Regions from separate parts of the Homo sapiens genome. Here region 1 is linked to region 2. The links come from fine-mapping of genetic effects on gene expression. Tissue or cell type: whole blood. Region 2 holds a variant in brackets; the other region holds the start of a gene. All regions are shown on one strand. Distances are between the middles of the regions.

Region 1 (9,969 bases), 280 kb after region 2:
AAACAAAAACCAAAAAGTTAGCCTTCTGCCCAAAACGTCTACGGGGTTTTTCTGGGGAGGGAAGGCAGACTCCAAGTTCCACACCAAAATTTGCATTACACACCTTTTCCTGACTAGGCTTCTGTGTACTTGCGTGTGGACTTGACTAGTGTTCAACAATCAGCTCAACCACTGAAAAACGTGTCTTCCTTGAGATGGAAGATAAACAGCACAGGTTCTGGTGGGAGGCACCACCCATCCCCCACCAGCTAGACAGTACCGAGACAGGTGTGGGGGCCACTGCCCTAGACATCAAGTTTATTGTGCTGTTCTCACATTGAAAACCCAACCCCCTCTCCCACTGGGGGAGGGCAAAGGGAAGGATTTTCACAGTACCTGCGTGCCTCCCTGCCAGTCTTCCCCGTCTAACCCTCAGTCCCTCTATCCATGGTCCACTGAAATGCAGCTAGGGACAAGAGCTAGGTACAATGGCCGAGGAGAAATGGGAATCTCTCTCCTTGGGAGAATAGGAGGAAAGGGCTAGAGAATTTGATATCCTCCCACCTCCCATGCCCTAAGAGAACAGAGGTCAGCAAACAGTCCATGCCATCCAGCCTGGGAGGCTGGGGGAGAGGAAGATGATGGTGACTCCAGCACAGCCAGCCTTGCTGCGCAGGTGCCAGAGGCATAGGGAGGAGGCTGAGGCAGCGACGGAAGAAAAGCTTTCTTTGCAGATCCAAGAAAGGAAACTATTTTTGGAGTCAGAAAGGAAAGACCTTGGGACACTTTCCTCTTCCCCCAGGTCCTTATGAGCAGCGAGGGCAGCCTCTTCACACTTTCTGTTTAGGGGGCCACTTAGTGGCTGGGGGATCGGGCCTTGTGGAACAGGTACACAGGACGCTGGAAGCCTGAGGGGAGAGAGAGTGATCAGAAGGGGTTGGCAGCACCTCAAGAATCCCCATGGGGGTCTGCACTCTTTCAGCCAGGACCAGCCTCCCTGACAAAATAAACCAGCCTTACCTTTAGAGGTGTTGTGGGGTGTGGCCACAAGCTCATAGCTGGAGAAGCCCACGTCTGGGGATGTCAGGTAGGAACTGAACTGCTCTGGCTTCAATTGGATTCGGTAGTAGTTCTTGTAGATCGTTTCCTAAGGAGAGAGGCAAGGGACCACTTCAGCACGCTGCCGCCTCCCCTGGCCAAGGGCGATGCCCACCTCGGGGCCTTTTCTTGCCTCAACCAAAGGAATGACTATTCCCCCAACACCCAACTCACTGTAAGAGTCTTTCTCTTGCCATACGACGACCAGGGTTGGGGCTCTAGGACCAGGATGCCCCCAGGGCGTAGGTGCCGGTAGATCCGGCGAAACATGCGCTTCAGGCCCTCGTCTCCCCAGTTCAGATGCACCCACTTGGTGAGGCTGAGGCAGAGCACCACATCATACTCAGGTGTTTGGGCCTCCACCAGGTCATCTCGATCCAGCACATAATTACCCTGAGGGCAAGAATCGGCAGTGAGGTCAACTGAGGGAATCAAAGAACCCCTGCTCCCAGGCAACCTGCTCTGAGGCCGATACAGTCCCGCGGCCTCACTTTAGCCCGTGGCCACTTTCTTCTCAGACTAACTCCCAAAAGGTGCCTGCCCTCTTTGAGTTTTGTTTTCTCCTCTACACCTTCCTGCCTCTGCTTCTTCCTACTGGTGGTAAGCCAAAAAAGGTCGACGGAGCCTGAGTAATTTTAAATGGTGCAAATTATCCATGAAGTCTTCCAAAGCTAGGGTCCCAGGACCATATCCTGTGTTTATTCTCACTCACAGACATTAAGTGGAGTGACTGCAGGTTCTGCAAGGGTAACTAACCCAGGTTTCAAAGGCAGACCTGTGGTTCCTTCCCTGCAGTTGGGGCTGGCAAAGTTTCAGGCCTATTCTTTCCTTTCTCTGAGAGAAATGAAGAGCCACATCCTTTAGGAAGCCTTTTCTAGAAGCTCAGCTCATCACAACCCTCTAAAAAGACCATTCTTCAGGCTTAACCCAACACAATGCCAAAGATCCCAGTAGGCAGCCTAACTGGAGTGTTCTCTGGGGAGCTGTGTGCAGTCAGGGGACTCTGCAGGGCACAGGACTCTCTCCTCTCTGCAGAGGAGTTTCTGGTTCTTCCCTCTCCCACTATCTAGGGTCAATGTGGAGAGGATCTACAGCCAAACCACTTGGGTTCCTGACACGCTTCAACAAACTGTCTAGGAAAACAAAAGCCGCTGATAGGAGCAAGGTGGCTATCAAAGGGCAGAAACGCCAGTATTAGTCTGTCGCTACCCTAATCTCCTCCCTAGAAGACATTCCATGTCTGACTCCCATTCTCAGGCTCCTTCAGTAAATCTGAGGACCAAGTTCCACCTGGATCAAATTCCCTAGTGAGCAGCAGCCTTCAAGGGAAGGGAAGGTGGACCAGTGTGGATTATAGGCCAAGCCGGGAGCAGAGCAAAAAGAGAGTCCTCCTCTATCTTGGAGATCCTTGCAGTCATGACAAAGGACTCCAGGGTCAATGCCCCAAGGTAGACACCCCACCTTTCCAGGTTATAAGAGGGGAGAGACGCCCAGCAGAGGCTCTCACTTGCCAACCCAGACCCCTCTTTTGAGGATCTGGGTCATAACCTTCCCTGCTACATTCCCATTTAATCTCATCTTCACACCTGGCCCCTATTCCAAGAGCCTCTGGACCCTCTTACCGTGACGAAGACAACATTGTTGGGGAAGACTGATGTGTCCGCTCCATCCAAGGGCACTTGGGGGGCAGCGATGGGACCCCGGCTGGCAGTCAGCGAGGCTGGGAAGCAGCTCCTCTTTCGAACGGTGGTGGTCCCTTCCTCACCCTCTGCCCCCGGGTCCCCTTCCAAAGTCTGGGGTGGGAGACGCAGCTCCTCGGAAAGGTAGTGTCGGATGTTTTGGCGGGCAGAATGGATGAGCCGGGAATCGATATCCAGGCCCACCATGCGGGACGGGCCCCACTTGCAGGCAATGCTCAGGGTCAGATGGCCCACATTGCAGCCCAGATCTAGGACGTCCCGGCCCCGAAACCACTCAGGCTTCAACACCCGAAGGCGCCCATCCTCACAGGAAGGATTGCGGTACCCATAGTATTTGCAATAATTCCCATACTGGAACTTGCGCTGTTGCTTTTTGAAGCCTGCTGCAGGCAGTGGGTGGTGGTGGTGGTGGCGGCCTCCCCAACTCCCTCGGCCCTTTTCCTTGGAACCCTGGCCTCCACCCCTAGCCCCTGCCTCCGACTTGCTGGAAGTCCTGCGACGTTTGCGATGTCGGGAGGAGGAAGATGGGGGTGCAGAGATAACTGAGGCAGCTGGAGGGGCTGATAGGGAGCCTGAGGGACCCTGCAGAGCAGATGGAAGGGGAGACACCACTTCATCCCTGCAGTTGATGGCTGTGTTGAGTTCATAGGGTTGGGGGGCATCCCGGTTCTGGCCCCTGTGCCGCGGCTGCTGTGAGGCGCCCTCCCCGTGGAGTAAGGGGGTGAGAGGGGCTGTGGGCGGCACGGGGTGACTCTCACTCCCTCCGGCTGCCTGCTGCTGCTGGTGGTGCTGTCCCCGGTGTCTATGCCGCTTCCGACCAGTCTTGAGTGGCGAAGCAAGAACTACATGGCCCTCATCAGTGCAAGTATTGAGACTGAGCGGGTCAGTAATATCTTTGGGGATGAGGATCTCCACCGGATCTCGCCCTTTGGCCGGAAGGGGGGATGACTTAGGGGTCTCCGCGTTGAGAGTGCGGCTCACTTCCTCATCCAGGAGGCTATTCAGGTTCAGGGGATCAAAGATATTGCCCCCCAGGAGGAAGTTGGAGGGTAACACAGAGTCACAGTCCGAATTCACCCGCCTGCGCCTCTTGAAGGCCGGATGTTTGAAGCCTCCCCCGCCTCCCCCTACATTACAGCTATTTCTCCTCTTGCCCCCGCCCCCCCCAGGTGGCCGGTGGGGCTGATAGCCATTGCGGGGTCGAGGAGGAGCAGGGGGACCCAGCTCTGTCCCGCCCCCTCCCCGGCGCTCCTCCCCCACGTCCGGGGGAGCGGCTCGCCCCGGGGGATCCGACAGGCGGGCCTCCCCATGCGACTGCGCCTGGGGGCCGCCCCCTCGGTGCTGCTGCGCCTGGGGACCACTGGAGGAGGTGGCCGCGGCCCCGGGGCTTTCCCGACCGACCGCAGCGGCTGGGGACCCCGCAGATGGCGCGCAACGACCCGGACCACGCTCCGTCCCGCCGCGGAGCTCCCCAGAGGCGGCCTCTTGGTGCGGTGGCACCGTGGGGCCGCCCCCTCCGCCCGACTCATCTTTGAGCGGCGGCGGCGGGGCCGGCACCAGAAACGGCTCCTTCTCCGCCGCCATCTCGATCATTTCCTCCCCTTATTCCGTGCCAGTCGGGGTAACGAGGGGGATCAGGGGGCCTAACCCCCCCTGCCTGGACCCTGCTCCCTTCCCCCCTTTCCCGAGTGCGCGCGCAGCTCTGCTCTTCACGCCTAGTCTCGCGCCCAAGCGCCTCCCCGCCAAGTGCGCCCTACTAGCCCGCGAGACCAAAACAAGAGGCCCGCGAGACCCGAACTACTCGAGGACTCAACCGCGCGTGCGCCGACCCCTTTCTCCTCCGCCACTACCACCCGGCCGCGAGCGCGCACGGTGAGCGCGCGTTCCCTTCGCCCGGGAACCACGCATGCGCACTCCGCCACCACCCTGGTTGCGCGCGCATCAGACTACGAACCAACTTAACGGCTCTGGGAGTTTAAATATAACCCCCCCACAGCCCCCGCAAAAGCCCACCACCCCAAACTGACACCCTACTTCCCTGCGCAGCTATGTCCGGCCCTACTGATCTCCTTTGTCTCTGCCGCGCGATCCCACCCACCGTAGGCGGGGGACGGGAGCTGGTGTGAAAAGGTCTCCTTGACACCCGACCCTTGTTCCTGAGGAATGAGTCTCAGCGGTCTCCGCCCGGCTCTAAATCCAACAACCTCCCCACCCCGCCTCCTTCCTCCCCCCTAGTGGGCAGCGCCTGCGCACACCCTTTTGGGCTTGCGCGGGTAGAGGCAGCACGTGCTGAAACTGGCGCCCCGCCCCCCGTCTTAGGGGTTGGGCCTGTGACGTCGCTTCCTTAAGTTTGGTAAACGCAGCGTGCGTCAGCGCGATCCGGAGGGGCGGGGCTTCCTGACGAAGGGCGGGGCTCATGAATTATTCATGAGCTGTTGGTAGCAAACCTCCCCCCCTCTGCCCACCTTCTTAGAAGCGCTTCCGAGGGAGCGGAGGGGAGACCCTACAAAGCCAAGGAAGGGCGGGAGTGGAACTGGGCTCAGTAAAACGCGATAGGTCATTATAACTCACCCCCCTTGAAAATATTCTCTGCTGAATTGGGGAAAAATAAAAAGCACTAAAACAGCCGATGTTGTCCAACTTCCTCTTCCCCCGAAACGGCTGAGTCGTTCTCTGGCTCCTCTACCTTCCCCCAATCGCAATCACCTGGAGACGCCACACCACGCCTTCCTCTCCGCCTCAACACCCACGACCCGAACCCCAACGCATCCGCCCACTCCCGACGCCCGCTCACTGGCCCGTCAGTTCGCGGGCCTCTCAACACCCACCGCGGCGCCACGCCGACTTATATACCAGCGAGTGTGGGCGGGGACGGGGGTTCGGTCCGCGCTGGGCCCCCCCAGCTTCTGCCAATGAGGAAGAAGCGAGTCTACGCCGTTTTCCCGGGGAGATGCGCCGCCCGGTCTCCCTGCCAGCGGAGTGCTGGGCCGAGGACAGGGCGGCAGGGGTGACAGTGGGGTCCAGGAGAGTCTCAAAATCCTAAGGTGAGGGCGTGAAGGAGACCAGCAGGAAGAGGAGGAATTAGAGAACGGAAAGAGGGAGGAAAAGGCAGTCTGAAACAGAAAAGTTAGTAGATGTGCTTCAGGAACAATCAGGCGCCGCGGCCGCCGCCTAAAAATATGTGACACCAAAGAGGATTCTGGGATTTGTAGTTTTCCCGGGACGTTCGGGTGGAAGATGGCGGATTTACCTCAGCTGCGGAAACGCAGACGCTGTTTCCAGTTGCGCATGCGCCTCGGCCCCGCGAGCGCACCGCCCTCGGGTGGAGCTAGTGCTCAGGGCGTCCTCGTGCCTTTTCTTGGTGGCGGGAAACCTGGGTTGAGGTGTGAGGGGCTTGCGGAGTCGCTGCGGCAGCTGGTTCCGCCCATCGCCTTTAGGTCCTCCTTGCTCCTGAAGGTAGCCAGCTAGTTTCTGGTTGTAGGTGAAGGTGCTAGGCGCTGCCAGTCCTGGCACCCGTTGCCTGAGGAGAAACTTTCTCAGGGCGACAACCAGCCCTTCGCCCTTTTTCCTCAGAATCTGTCGCCCCCAAGAAACAGACAAAAAAAAAATAGCCCAGTCTCCTGGCGGGCACCAACGATATGAGTGAGAATAAGGATCACGGGGCCTCGGCAGGAGTGGGGGTGGAGGGGAGATTCCCTCATGGTGGGAGGAAGGAAGGGAGGGGACGGGGAAGAGAGAGGGGGACGTGTGGCTCAGGGACACCGACTTGAACCGCTATCCCTGAGAGAGAATAAGGGGTGAGGGAAGAGAGGAAAAATGGGAGCGCCCCACAAATGGGAAGAACTTCTCTGCAAAACTTCTTCCCTTTGGATTGCAGGTGGATTTGGAATTGGGGCTTTTTTTTTTTTTTTTTTAAAGACTGTCTCGCTCTGTCGCCCAGGCTGGAGTGCAGTGGCGCAGTCTCGGCTCACTGCAACCCCCACCTCCTGGGTTCAAGCGATTCCCCTGCCTCAGCCTCCCGAGGAGCTGGGACTACAGGCGCCCGCCACTGTGCCCGGCTAATTTTGTATTTTTAGTAGAGACGGGGTTTCTCCATGTTGGCCAGGCTGGTCTCGAACTCCTGACCTTAGGTGATCCGCCCACCTTGGCCTCCCAAAATGCTGGGATTACAGGCACGCGCCACCGTGCTCGGCTGATTTTTTTGTATTTTTAGTAGAGACGGGGTTTCACCGTATTGGCCAGGCTGGTCCCGAACTCCTGACTTAAGGTGATCCACCCGCCTCTTCTTTCTTGTTAAAAGTTTTAAATCGGGCTTGCTGAGCTTGTGCACAAACACGAAGGAAGAAAGCAAGGGAGGGAAGGGGGAGGAAGGAAGGAGGGAGGGAAGGGGGAGGAAGGAAGGAGGGAGGGAAGGGGGAGGAAGGAAGGAGGGAGGGAAGGAGAAGAGAGAGAGGGAGGGAGGAAAGGGAGGAGGGAGGGAGGAGGGGGAGGAAAGGGGAGGGAGGGAAGGAGAAGAGAGAGAGGGAGGGAAGGAGAAGAGAGAGGGAGGGAAGGATAAGAGAGGGAGGGAGGAAAGGGGAGGGAGGGAGGAGGGGGAGGAAACGGGAGGGAGGGAAGGAGAAGAGAGGGAGGGAGGAAAGGGGGAAGGGAGGAGGGGGAGGAAAGGGGAGGGAGGAGGGGGAGGGAGAAGGGAGGGAGGGAGAGGAAGGAAGAAGGAGGGGAAGCAGGGAAGGGAGGAGGGGGAGGGGGGTAGGAAGGAGAGGGGGAGGAAAGGGAAGGAGGAGGGGGAGAAAGGAGAGGGGGAGGAGGGAGGGAAGAGGGAGAGAGAAAGGGAGGAGGGCAAGGAAGGAGGGGGAGGGAGAGAAGGAGGGGGAGGAAGGGATGGAGGGACAAAGGGAGACAGAAGGAGGGAAGAAGGAAGAGAGGGAGGGAAGAGGGAGGAAGGAGTAAAGGAGGGAGAGAGGGAGGGAGAAAAAGTGAGAGGGAGGGAGGAAACTGCTATTAGTTAATTGAGGCATGAAAATAAGCAGGAGTCCACATACTGTTATTAATGCAAAAAGGAAGATCAGACTCTGGCTTAAAAAAGATTTGAAATATACTTTTTTTTTTTTTTTTTTTTGAGACAGAGTCTCACTCATTTTGCCCAGGCTGGAGTGCAGTAGCACGGTCTTGGCTCACTGCAACCTCCACCTCCTGGGTTCAAGTGATTCTCCTGCTTCAGCCTCCCAAGTAGCTGAGATTACAGGCGCCTGCCACCACGCTGGCTAATTTTTGTATTTTAGTAGAGATGGGGCTTCACCATGTTGGTCAGGCTGGTCTTGAACTCCTGACCTTAGGTGATCCACCTGCCTTGGCCTCCCAAAGTGCTGGAATTACAGGCGTGAGCCACTGCGCCCGGCTGAAATATACTCTTTAAATACCGCTTTTTTGAGGCTCAGGGAGTCTGGGTTAGAGGACAATGCTAAAGGGTTTACTTCTCTTAGACCAAGGATTTGAGGAACAATATAAGGAAGGGAATGATTGGATGGTTAGGAAGAGGAAATTTGGGAACACATTCTGAATGGTGTGTGGGGAGAGAGAATTACTGTTTATTTAAAAAAGTATTGGCAATACTGACAAGTTATTTCACTAGGTCAGTTCTCAAACTTTTTGGTTTGAGAACCCTTTTATACCCTTAAAATTTATGGAGGACTCCAAAGAGCTTTTATTTGGTTTGTATCTGTTGATACTAACATTTTAGAAATTAAAATTCAGAAACATTTAAAGTTTGATTAGAAATAACAATAATAAATATGTTAACCTAAACAGGTTTTTATGAAAAATACATTCTCCTAAACAAAAGAAAATTTAGCATGAAGAATGGTGGTGGTTTACATTTTTGCAAATCTCTTTCATGTCTGGCTTAATAGAAAACAACTGGGTTCTCGTCTGTTTCTGCATTCAGTCTGTTGGGATATCTTGTTTTTGTAAAAGTACATGAGAAAATCCAGCTTAATACAGATAGGTAGTTGGAAAAGGGAGAGGGCCCCCTAGGATTTTGGGACTACACTTAGAACTGCTGAGTTAGGTGATTTCATCTCAAAATTTATGTGATGGTTTTTAATGTTCTAAGTGAAATAAAACTCTTTTTTGAGATCCTCATTCACCTTCCCTTGGTTCCCTTTATTATTTCTAAGTTCTTTTTCCCTCCTTATTTACCCTCATTTCATATGTTGAGTGATGAGAATATGGTTTCTGGAACTGTACTGGTTCTTTTACATTCTTATTTAAAGCCTTTGCCCCTCTTATTAAAGCCTTCCCCGCAACCCCACACCCTGCCCCTCTTCATCTAAGGTAAGAAAAGAGAAATTAAAACCTCAAATTTTATTCCTGGGTCTACAGCCCCTAGTCATTTAGTAGCTGTACAGAAGAAAGTTAGTGGTATTTTATATTTTTATTAACTGTCTATATTTTTTTCTCTCTCTCTCTGAACCAGCTTTCAGTATTTGTTATTGTGAAAGAAGTTAATTCACCTGAAACAGAGGAGGGGCAACCTGAGTTATCAGAAAGTGACTTCCTGGCCTTCCCTTCTTTACTGATCAGGTTAGAGCTTTTGTTTGAAAGCAGTGTTATCACATGCACAGATTATACATATTATGTGATACTATACATCACTGTTTATAGATTTATTACATCTTATTAACTCAACAACAGTGAACCACAATTCTATCTAGTTGGTTGGGGCTCCAGAAATATACTTTGGCCTAGGAAGATCTTTACAGGTTTAGATAAGGATTTGAACCTAAATACTGGAAATGTTTGCATTTTTAGGTTGGTCGAAATACTCTCTTTTAATTTTACTTAAAGAATTTCGGCCGGGCACGGTGCGTCATGCCTGTAATCCCAGCACTTTGGGAGGCTGAGGCAGGTGGATCATGAGGTCAGGAGATTGAGACTATCCTGGCCAACATGGTGAAACCCCGTCTCTACTAAAAATACGAAAATTAGCTGGGGGTGGTGGTGCGCTCCTGTAATCCCAGCTACTCGGGAGGCTGAGGCAGGAGAATCGCTTGAACCTGGGAGGCAGAGGTTTCAGTGAGCCAAGATTGCACCACTGCACTCCAGCCTGGTGATAGAGCAAGACTGTGTCTCAAAAAAAATAATAATAATTTAAAATATTTTTTGAAGTGGCAACATTTATAGGTTTTAAAAT
Region 2 (8,000 bases):
AGGAGATGGTTTGTGCCTTCCTGCCCTTGGCTCATCCTGGATTACCCTCCCACACCATCTCCTCGTTTTCTTTAAAGCCCAAATCTGTGCATCGCCTCCTCCATGAAGCCTTTCTTGATCTCCCAGCAGGAAATCGTCTCCTTCCCTGGCACTGCCGTCATTTATGTACATGTCTTAGGCATCTCACTGGCAGGACCGCCATGGACAGCCGTCAAAGATGAGCACTGCCCAACTCCCAGGGGCATCCATAGAGACTCTGAAGGGAATGGTACCGTCTGGAGTCACGTAGTGCAGGTGCCCTAGTCATCGAAGAGAGCGAAGGGCTGCGTATGGAAGTTCTGATGCATTTTTCTGTCTACCAAGCGTCCAGCATGTCCCTTTTCTGTGGTAACCACCCAAGTGTGGATTGCATTATGTGGTCCCTCCACTACATGCTCAGAGAAGAACCCAACCTAGAGGGGGCACTGAGCCATCCCCCGGTCAACCCAGCTCCCTGGGATCCTGGGGCGTGTGAAGCTTCCATGCACTTCCTGAGCAGGCAGCCACTGAGGCAGGGTTTGAAAAGGGCCAGTTGTGACAGGAGGATGGCGGGTGTGGAGGCAGGCTCTGCTCCACGGATTCCTCCTGGCAGTGGATTCAGATTGGAAATCCAAGCAGAAGCAAATTTACAGCCCCCCGAGCTGTCCCAGACCCCCAGGCAGCACGGAGCCCCAGCTGCCTGGAGTCGGACTTGGGAAGGGGGGCCTCCTGGCTTCTCTTTCCCTCCTCATTTCCAAGCAGTGGCTTCTCAGCTCAGCTCGAGTTCAGCCAGAGGCCCAGAAGACCTTCTGTGCTGGGAGGGGAGGTGGCTGGGGACCTTGTTGGGTGGCCTTTGGGGAACTGTGAAGGAAGCAAGAATGCTGGAGGGCCAGGCACGGTAGCTCACGCCTGGAATCCCAGCACTTTAGGAGGCTAAGGAGGGAGGATCCCTTGAGCCCAGGAGTTTGAGACCAGTCTGGGCAACATAGGGAGACCCTGTCTCTACAGAAAATTTGTTAGGCATGCTGGCACATGCCTGTAGTCCCAGCTACTCGGGAGGCTGAGGTTGGAGGATTGCTTGAGCCCAGGAGTTGGAAGCTGCAGTTAGCTATGATCGCACCACTGCACTCCAGCCTGGGCGAAAGAACAACACCCTTTCTTAAAAAAAAAAAAAGATGCTGAAGAAGGGATTCCTGCTGGAGAACCAAAGGAAAATCCTTTGCCAAAGTCCTCAAAGGAAAATCCTTTACCGCACCTGGCCTACCAAAGTTTTATGAAGCCTATTCCTGACTGATCCTTTGTTCTCTAAGTAAGGTGATCAAGGAGTTAGTTATCAAACTGATGAGGGGCCGGGTGAGGTGGCTCACACCTATAATTTCAGCACTTTGGAAAGCTAAGGTGATCATTTGAGGCCAGGAGTTCAAGACCAGCCGGGGCAACACAGTGAGACCCTGGCTCTATAAAAAATAAAGAAGTTATTTTTTATAGAGTTATATTTTTTATATAAAAAATAAAGAAGTTAGCCAGGCATGGCGGCACATGCCTGGTGTCACAGCTACTTGGGAGGCTGAGGAAGGATGATCATTTGAACCTAGGAGGTCGAGGTTGCAGTGAGCTATGATCATGCCACTGCACTCGAGCCTGGGGAACTGAGCAAGACCCATCTCTAAATAAGTAAAAATAAAACTGATGAGATACCTCAAGAAGTTATTTTATTGCCCGTTCCACTAACTAATAAATATCTGATGAATGAATGGGTCAGTGGATACATGGATGATGCAGAGGAGAATGGCTTGCTGTCTCCTCTATAACAAGCCTCTGCTCCCTTAAGAAAAGGCAACCGTCTTGTCACTTGAAGAATGCAAACAGAGGGTGGACTTTCGCCTTCACAGGACCTGCTAGATTCCTTCCAACTCAGTCTATTAGTCTTGTTTGCTATTAGACAAATATACTTCCCTGAAAAGGGAAAAATTATTTGCTGGTTGATGAACTAAGACACGAGCAGAAGAGCTCACTTAGGCCGGGCACGGTGGCTCACGCCTGTAATCCCAGCACTTTGGGGGCTGAGACGGGCGGATCACGAGGTCAGGAGTTCAAGACCAGCCTGGCCAATATGGTGAAACCCCATCTCTGCTAAAAATACAAAAATTAGCTGGGCATGGTGGCGCACACCTATAGTCCCAGCTACTCAGGAGGCTGAGGCAGAAGAATCACTTGAACTCGAGAGGCGGAGGTTGCGGTGAGCCAAGATTGTGCCACTGGACTCCAGCCTGGGCGACAGAGCCAGACTCTGTCTCAAAAAAAAAAAAAAAGCAACTTTTATGATGAACTTTTGCTCATTACAAAAACAATACGTGACCAAAATTAGAAAACAGCGCTAAACTCAAACACATAAACTGAAAAACACCCATAATGTCATTAGGGTCTTGGGACCTTAAGTGGCCATTTTCACAGGCTTCCTTCTGGTAGGATGACCTTTGCCTCATCCCAAATCTCTGTGCAATTGGACATCTGTTTCCTAAGGAACTACAATTGACACGTTCTCGTCCAACCTCTCTAGTGGTTTGAGGGTTTGTGAAACACCATTTTTCCCTCAACTCCTGACCAAGCACCAGAAACTCACCTGGGACAAAGTGCTGGGCTTCTCTAGCAGGATCATCAGCCTGATCAAACCACTTAATATTTCAAGGTCCCGTCCCCTTCCCTGCTATGCGAGCCACAACTGAGTCTGGCTCAGTTGTTAGTTTCTACTAATAACTCAGACTTGAGAATTAAACGCACACAAAATTGCCTTCCTTCACTTCTCCCCATTCCTATTAAGAAGCCTAAAACCATTTCTTAGCAAAATGGCTTCATACTAAACAATACTAGCTCTTGGCCGGGCGCAGTGGCTCACGCCTGTAATCTCAGAACTTTGGGAGGCTGAGGCAGGCGGATCACCTGAGGTCACGAGTTCGAGACCAGCCTGGCAAACACGGAGAAACCCTGCCTCTACTAAAAATACAAAAAGTAGCCGGGCTTGGTGGAACGTGCCTGTAATCCCAGCTACTCAGGAGGCTGAGGCAGGAGAATCAGTTGAATCCAGGAGGCGGAGGTTGCAGTGAGCTGAGATCACGCCATTGCATTCCAGCCTGGGCAACAAGAGCACAACTCCGTCTCAAAACAAACAGATAAACAAACAAAGAAAACAATAGTAGCTCTTTTTTTTTTTTTTTTGCCTGTAGTCCTAACTACCTGGGAGGCTGAGGCAGGATTGCTTGAGCCTAGAAGTTTGAGGTTGCAGTGAGCTATGATTGTACCATTGCACTCCAGCCTAGGCTACAGAGTGAGACCCTGTCTCTAAAATAAATAAATAAATAAATAAAATGTAAAAAGGAGGGCAGGGCATTGCATTTGCACACACCTTCTGCCTCCATCTCCTCACCCCTCTCCCGTTTTTCAAGCTTTTTTCTTTTTGAGACTGAGTCTCCCTCTGTCACCCAGGCTGGAGTGCAATGGCACAATCTTGGTGCACTGCAACCTCCACCTCCCGGGTTCAAGCAGTTCTCCTGCCTCAGCCTCCTGAGTAGCTGGGATTACAGGCGCCTGCCACCACGCCCAGCTAATTTTGTATTTTCAGTAGAGACGGGGTTTCACCATGTTGGCCAGGCTGGTCTTGAACTCCTAACCTCAGGTGATCTGCCTGCCTGGGCCTCCCAAAGTGCTGGGATTACAAAGAGACGTGGCTCACTGTTTCTGGCCTCCCAAGCTTTGATGGAAGTCACTTTGGAGAGCCAGTAGAGGGAGGAGAACAGAGGCTGGAGCTAGCCTCCCTACGGTCGGGCCTGCAGGCAGGGTTCCCTGCCCCACCTGCCCTGCATGGACTCTAGTAGATGCAGGAGCCTGGTTCACGCCCCCCCACACACAAAAGAGTGAGCCCCAGGCCCCACTCTTCCTTCAGTGGCAATGTGGAGGTCTGTTTCTGCAGAACTGCCACTGAGGGAAGCCCCACTGGCAAGCAGTGAGAAAACATGGAGTAGAAACAACAAACAAATAGGCTGCAGGAGGGAACTGCCAAAACAAACCAGATGGGAAAGGCTGCCTGCCACCACCTCTGCTGGGCTCAGGCCCGGAGCACATACGTGCAG[G/A]GAGACACAGCTCCATCCAGCTTCCTGCCGGCTCCCCGCTCGGCTACTGGGGGGCTCCCGGGCAAGGAAGCCTTGCAGTCAGGCTGATGGAAAGGATGTGGCCTGATAGAAATGTCCGCAGCCAGCCAGGTACGGTGGCTCACGCCTGTTATCCCAGCACTTTGGGAGGCCGTAGGCGGGCAGATCACGAGGTCAGGAGATCGAGACCATCCTGGCCAACATGGTGAAACCCCGTCTTTACTAAAAATACAAAAATTAGCTGGGTGTGGTGGTGCGCACCTGTAATCCCAGCTACTCAGCTACTTGGGAGGCTGAGGCAGGAGAATCGCTTGAACCAGGGAGTCGGAGGTTGCAGTGAGCGAAGATCACGCCACTGCACTCCAGCCTGGCGATAGAGACTCTGTCTCAAAAAAAAAAAAAAAAAAAAGAAATGTCTGCAGCCTTGTCTCCCAGTACCTCTTGCTTTCTAGCCACCTCGAGTCCCTCCAGTCCCAGAACGTAGCTGCCTATTCATTAATCCCCTCCCTGCCCACTGTTTTTTGAGACAGGTTCTTGCTGTTTCACAAGCCCTCAGTCACGGCTTACTGCAGCCTCAACCTCTTGGGCTCAAGCAATCCTCCCACCTCAGCCTCCTGAGTAGCTGGACCACAGGTGCACACCGCCAAGCCCAGTTAATTTTTAAATTTTTGATAGAGACAAAGTCTTACTCTATTGCCCAGGCTGGTCTCAAACTCCTGAGCTCTAGCAATTTTCTCTCTTCGGCCTTCCAAAGTGCTGGGATTACAGGCATGGCCACCATTCCCAGCCAAATCCACCCATCTCCCCGCCCCACTGTGATCTCTCTGCCAAATATGCCATCTCCCTTCTTTTCTGCCTGGCAAACTCCTATACATCCTTCAACACCCAGATCAAAGGTGAGTGAAACCATTTTGGGTCCCACCAGGAAGTTATTAGCCCTTTCCATCTCCACATTTCCTTATCATTGCTACTCTTATGTCTCACACATCTTACTCATTCACAAAAAATTATGTGTCCACCTTCCCAATTAGATGGCGAGCTCCTTGAACATAGGGACCATTTCATACGCAGATGCCAGAGGAAGGGATTTTGATGAATTAGAAGACTGATCTTCAGACCTCCAAACCAAACTACCTTCCTTGAATTAGAGTGAAATTCTGTTCCTAACCTGTAAATCAGAGGCTCTTAAACTCTTATGACCTCAAACGGTAAAAAACACAATGTACATCCTATTATAGTACATATATATATATATATATATATACACACATGCCTAACTGAAAAATTTGCTGGCCAGGCCTAGTGGCTCACACCTGTAATCCCGGCATTTTGGGAGGCTGAGGTGGGTGGATCACCTGAGGTCAGGAGTTTGAAATCAGCCTGGACAACATGGCGAAACCCCATCTCTACTAAAAATACAAAAATTAGCCAGGCGTGGTGGCACACGCCTATAATTCCAGCTACTCAGGAGGCTGAGACAGGAGAATCGCTTGAACCTGGGAGGCAGAGGTTGCAGTGAGCCAAGATTGTGCTACTGAACTCCAGCCTAGGAGATAGAGACTCTGCCTCAAAAAAAACAAAAACATCTGCAATAAAAACACCACCATTTAAGTTGCACTTTTTTTAAAACTTGGGTTCTTTTTTCTTTTTCTTTTCTTTTTTTAGACAAGGTCTTGCTCTGTCGCCCAGGCTGGAGTGCACTGGCGTGATCTCAGCTCACTGCAACCTCCCCCTCCTGGGCTCAGGTCATCCTCCCACCTCAGCCTCCCAAGTAGCTGGGACCACAGTTTTGTGCCACCATGCCCAGATAACTTTTTATATTTTTTGTAGAGATGGGATTTCGCCATGTTGCCTAGGCTGGTCTCGAACTCCTGCGCTCAAGAGACTGACCTGCCTCGGCCTCCCAAAGTGCTGGGATTATAGGCGTGAGCCACCACACCCAGCCTTATTTTTTTTGTTGTTGTTTTTGTTTTTTGAGACGGACTCGCTCTGTCGCCCAGGCTGGAGTGCAGTGGCACAATCTCGGCTCTCTGCAACCTCCGCCTCCCTGGTTCAAGCGATTCTCCTGCCTCAGCCTCTAGAGTAGCTGGAACTACAGGCATGTGCCACCACGCCTGGCTAATTTTTTGTATTTTTAGTAGAGACAGGGTTTCACCATGTTAGCCAGGATGGTCTTGATCTCTGGACCTCGTGATCTGCCCGCCTCAGCCTCCCAAAGTGCTGGGATTACAGGCGTGAGCCACCGCGCCTGGCTTTTTCTTTTTTTAAGAAGCTGTGACCCACAAATGGGTCACAACCCGCTTTGATAAACATTGCTTTAGTTGACTTTAGTTTGATAAATATGAAAAATCAGGTCATCCCACAAATATCCAAACAGAAAGTATTACCTGTGTGCCCAGTAATTATTTGGAGTGAGGGGTTCCTTCGCCACTGGAGCAGCCCAGTGAGAAGGGTCTGAAGGCCGGGCGCAGTGGCTCATGCCTGTAATCCCAGCACTTTGGGTGGCCAAGGCAGGCAGAACGCTTCAGGTCAGAAGTTTGAGACCAGCCTGGCTGACATGGTGAAACCCCTTCTCTACTAAAAATACAAAAAATTGCAGGGCATGGTGATGGATGCCTATAGTCCCGGCTACTCAGGAGGCTGAGGCAGAAGAATCCCTTGAACCCAGGAGGCAGAGGTTGCAGTGAGCTGAGATCGCACCACTGCACTCCAGCCTGGATGACAGAGTGAAGCTGTCTCAAAAAAAAAAAAAAAAAAAAAAAAGGGTCTGAAGGGCTCTGCACCTGAAAGCCCGGGTATCATCTAGGTAGGCCCTGCAGGTCCAGGAATTAAATGAAGCCACTTGTCAGTCCCTACCATGGAGCCTGACACTAAGAAGGTCCTGAAGTCTTAGTTTGCTTCCTTTTTTTTTTTTTTTTTTTTTTTGAGATACGGTCTTGCTGTGTCAGCAAGGCTGGAGGAGTGTAGTGCGGTGATCACAGCTCACTGCAGCCTTGAACTCCTGGGCTCAAGCGATCCTCCTGCCTCAGCTAACGAGGTAGCTGGGATTATAGGTGCAAACCACTACACCCATCTAGTTTTCAAAAATTTTTTGCATTTGGGAGGCCAAGGCGGGCAGATCACTTGAGGTCAGGAGTTCGAGAACAGCCTGGCCAACATGGTGTTTCCACTAAAAAAATACAAAAATAATTAGCTGGGCGTGGTGGCACTCACCTGTAATTCCAGCTACTGGGGAGGATGAAGCAGGAGAATCACTTGAACCCAGGAGCCGAACGTTGCAGTGAGCCAAGATGGCACCACTGTACTCCAGCCTGGGTGACAGAGCAAGACTTCATCTCAGAAAAAAAAAAAAAGTGGTTTTTTTGCATAGACTAGGTCTCAGTATGTCATCTAGATTGGAGTGCAGGTGGCATGATCATAACTCACTGCACCTTCAAACTCCCAGGCTCAAGCACTCTTTCCGCCTCAGCCTCCGCCAGTAGCTCAGACTACAGGCTGGAGCCACTGCACCCAACTAGAAGACGAAAATCTTTAAAACAAACATTGGGGCTGGGCACGGTGGCTCACGCCTGTAATCCTAGCACTTTGGGAGGCCGAGATGGGTGGATCACAAGGTCAGGAGATCGAGAACATCCCTGCTAACACGCTGAAACCCTGTCTCTACTAAAAATACAAAAAAATTAGCCAGGGTGTGGTGGCAGGCACCTGTAGTCCCAGCTACTCAGGAGGCTGAGGCAGGAGAATGGCGTGAACTCAGGAGGTGGAGCTTGCAGTGAGCCAAGATTGCACCACTGCACTCCAGCCTGGGTGACAGAGTGAGACTCTGTCTCAAAAAAC

What was found. PIP is the estimated chance that this variant, and not a neighbour inherited with it, causes the effect.
Region 1: it holds the start of ZCWPW1, and the variant in region 2 is fine-mapped to the expression of ZCWPW1 in whole blood (TOPMed, PIP above 0.99).

Annotation. Positions count from the first base shown.
Region 1 is chr7:100,424,420-100,434,388 of GRCh38, reverse strand. ZCWPW1 (zinc finger CW-type and PWWP domain containing 1) reads left to right here and starts at 5,686. Exons shown (of 18, transcript NM_001386010.1): 1 at 5,686-5,821; 2 at 9,253-9,359. MEPCE (methylphosphate capping enzyme) reads right to left here and starts at 4,558. Exons shown (of 4, transcript NM_019606.6): 1 at 2,700-4,558; 2 at 1,252-1,470; 3 at 1,000-1,126; 4 at 271-887. The coding sequence starts at 4,370. The coding sequence ends at 835. RefSeq lists enhancers at 3,659-3,738, 4,609-4,748, 5,769-5,998 and silencers at 3,869-4,338, 6,159-6,208.
Region 2 is chr7:100,707,694-100,715,693 of GRCh38, reverse strand. No RefSeq gene overlaps it. Among named protein-coding and RNA genes, the nearest start is that of POP7, 5.6 kb to the right of the region's middle. The variant G/A (reference allele first, on the strand shown) is at 4,146.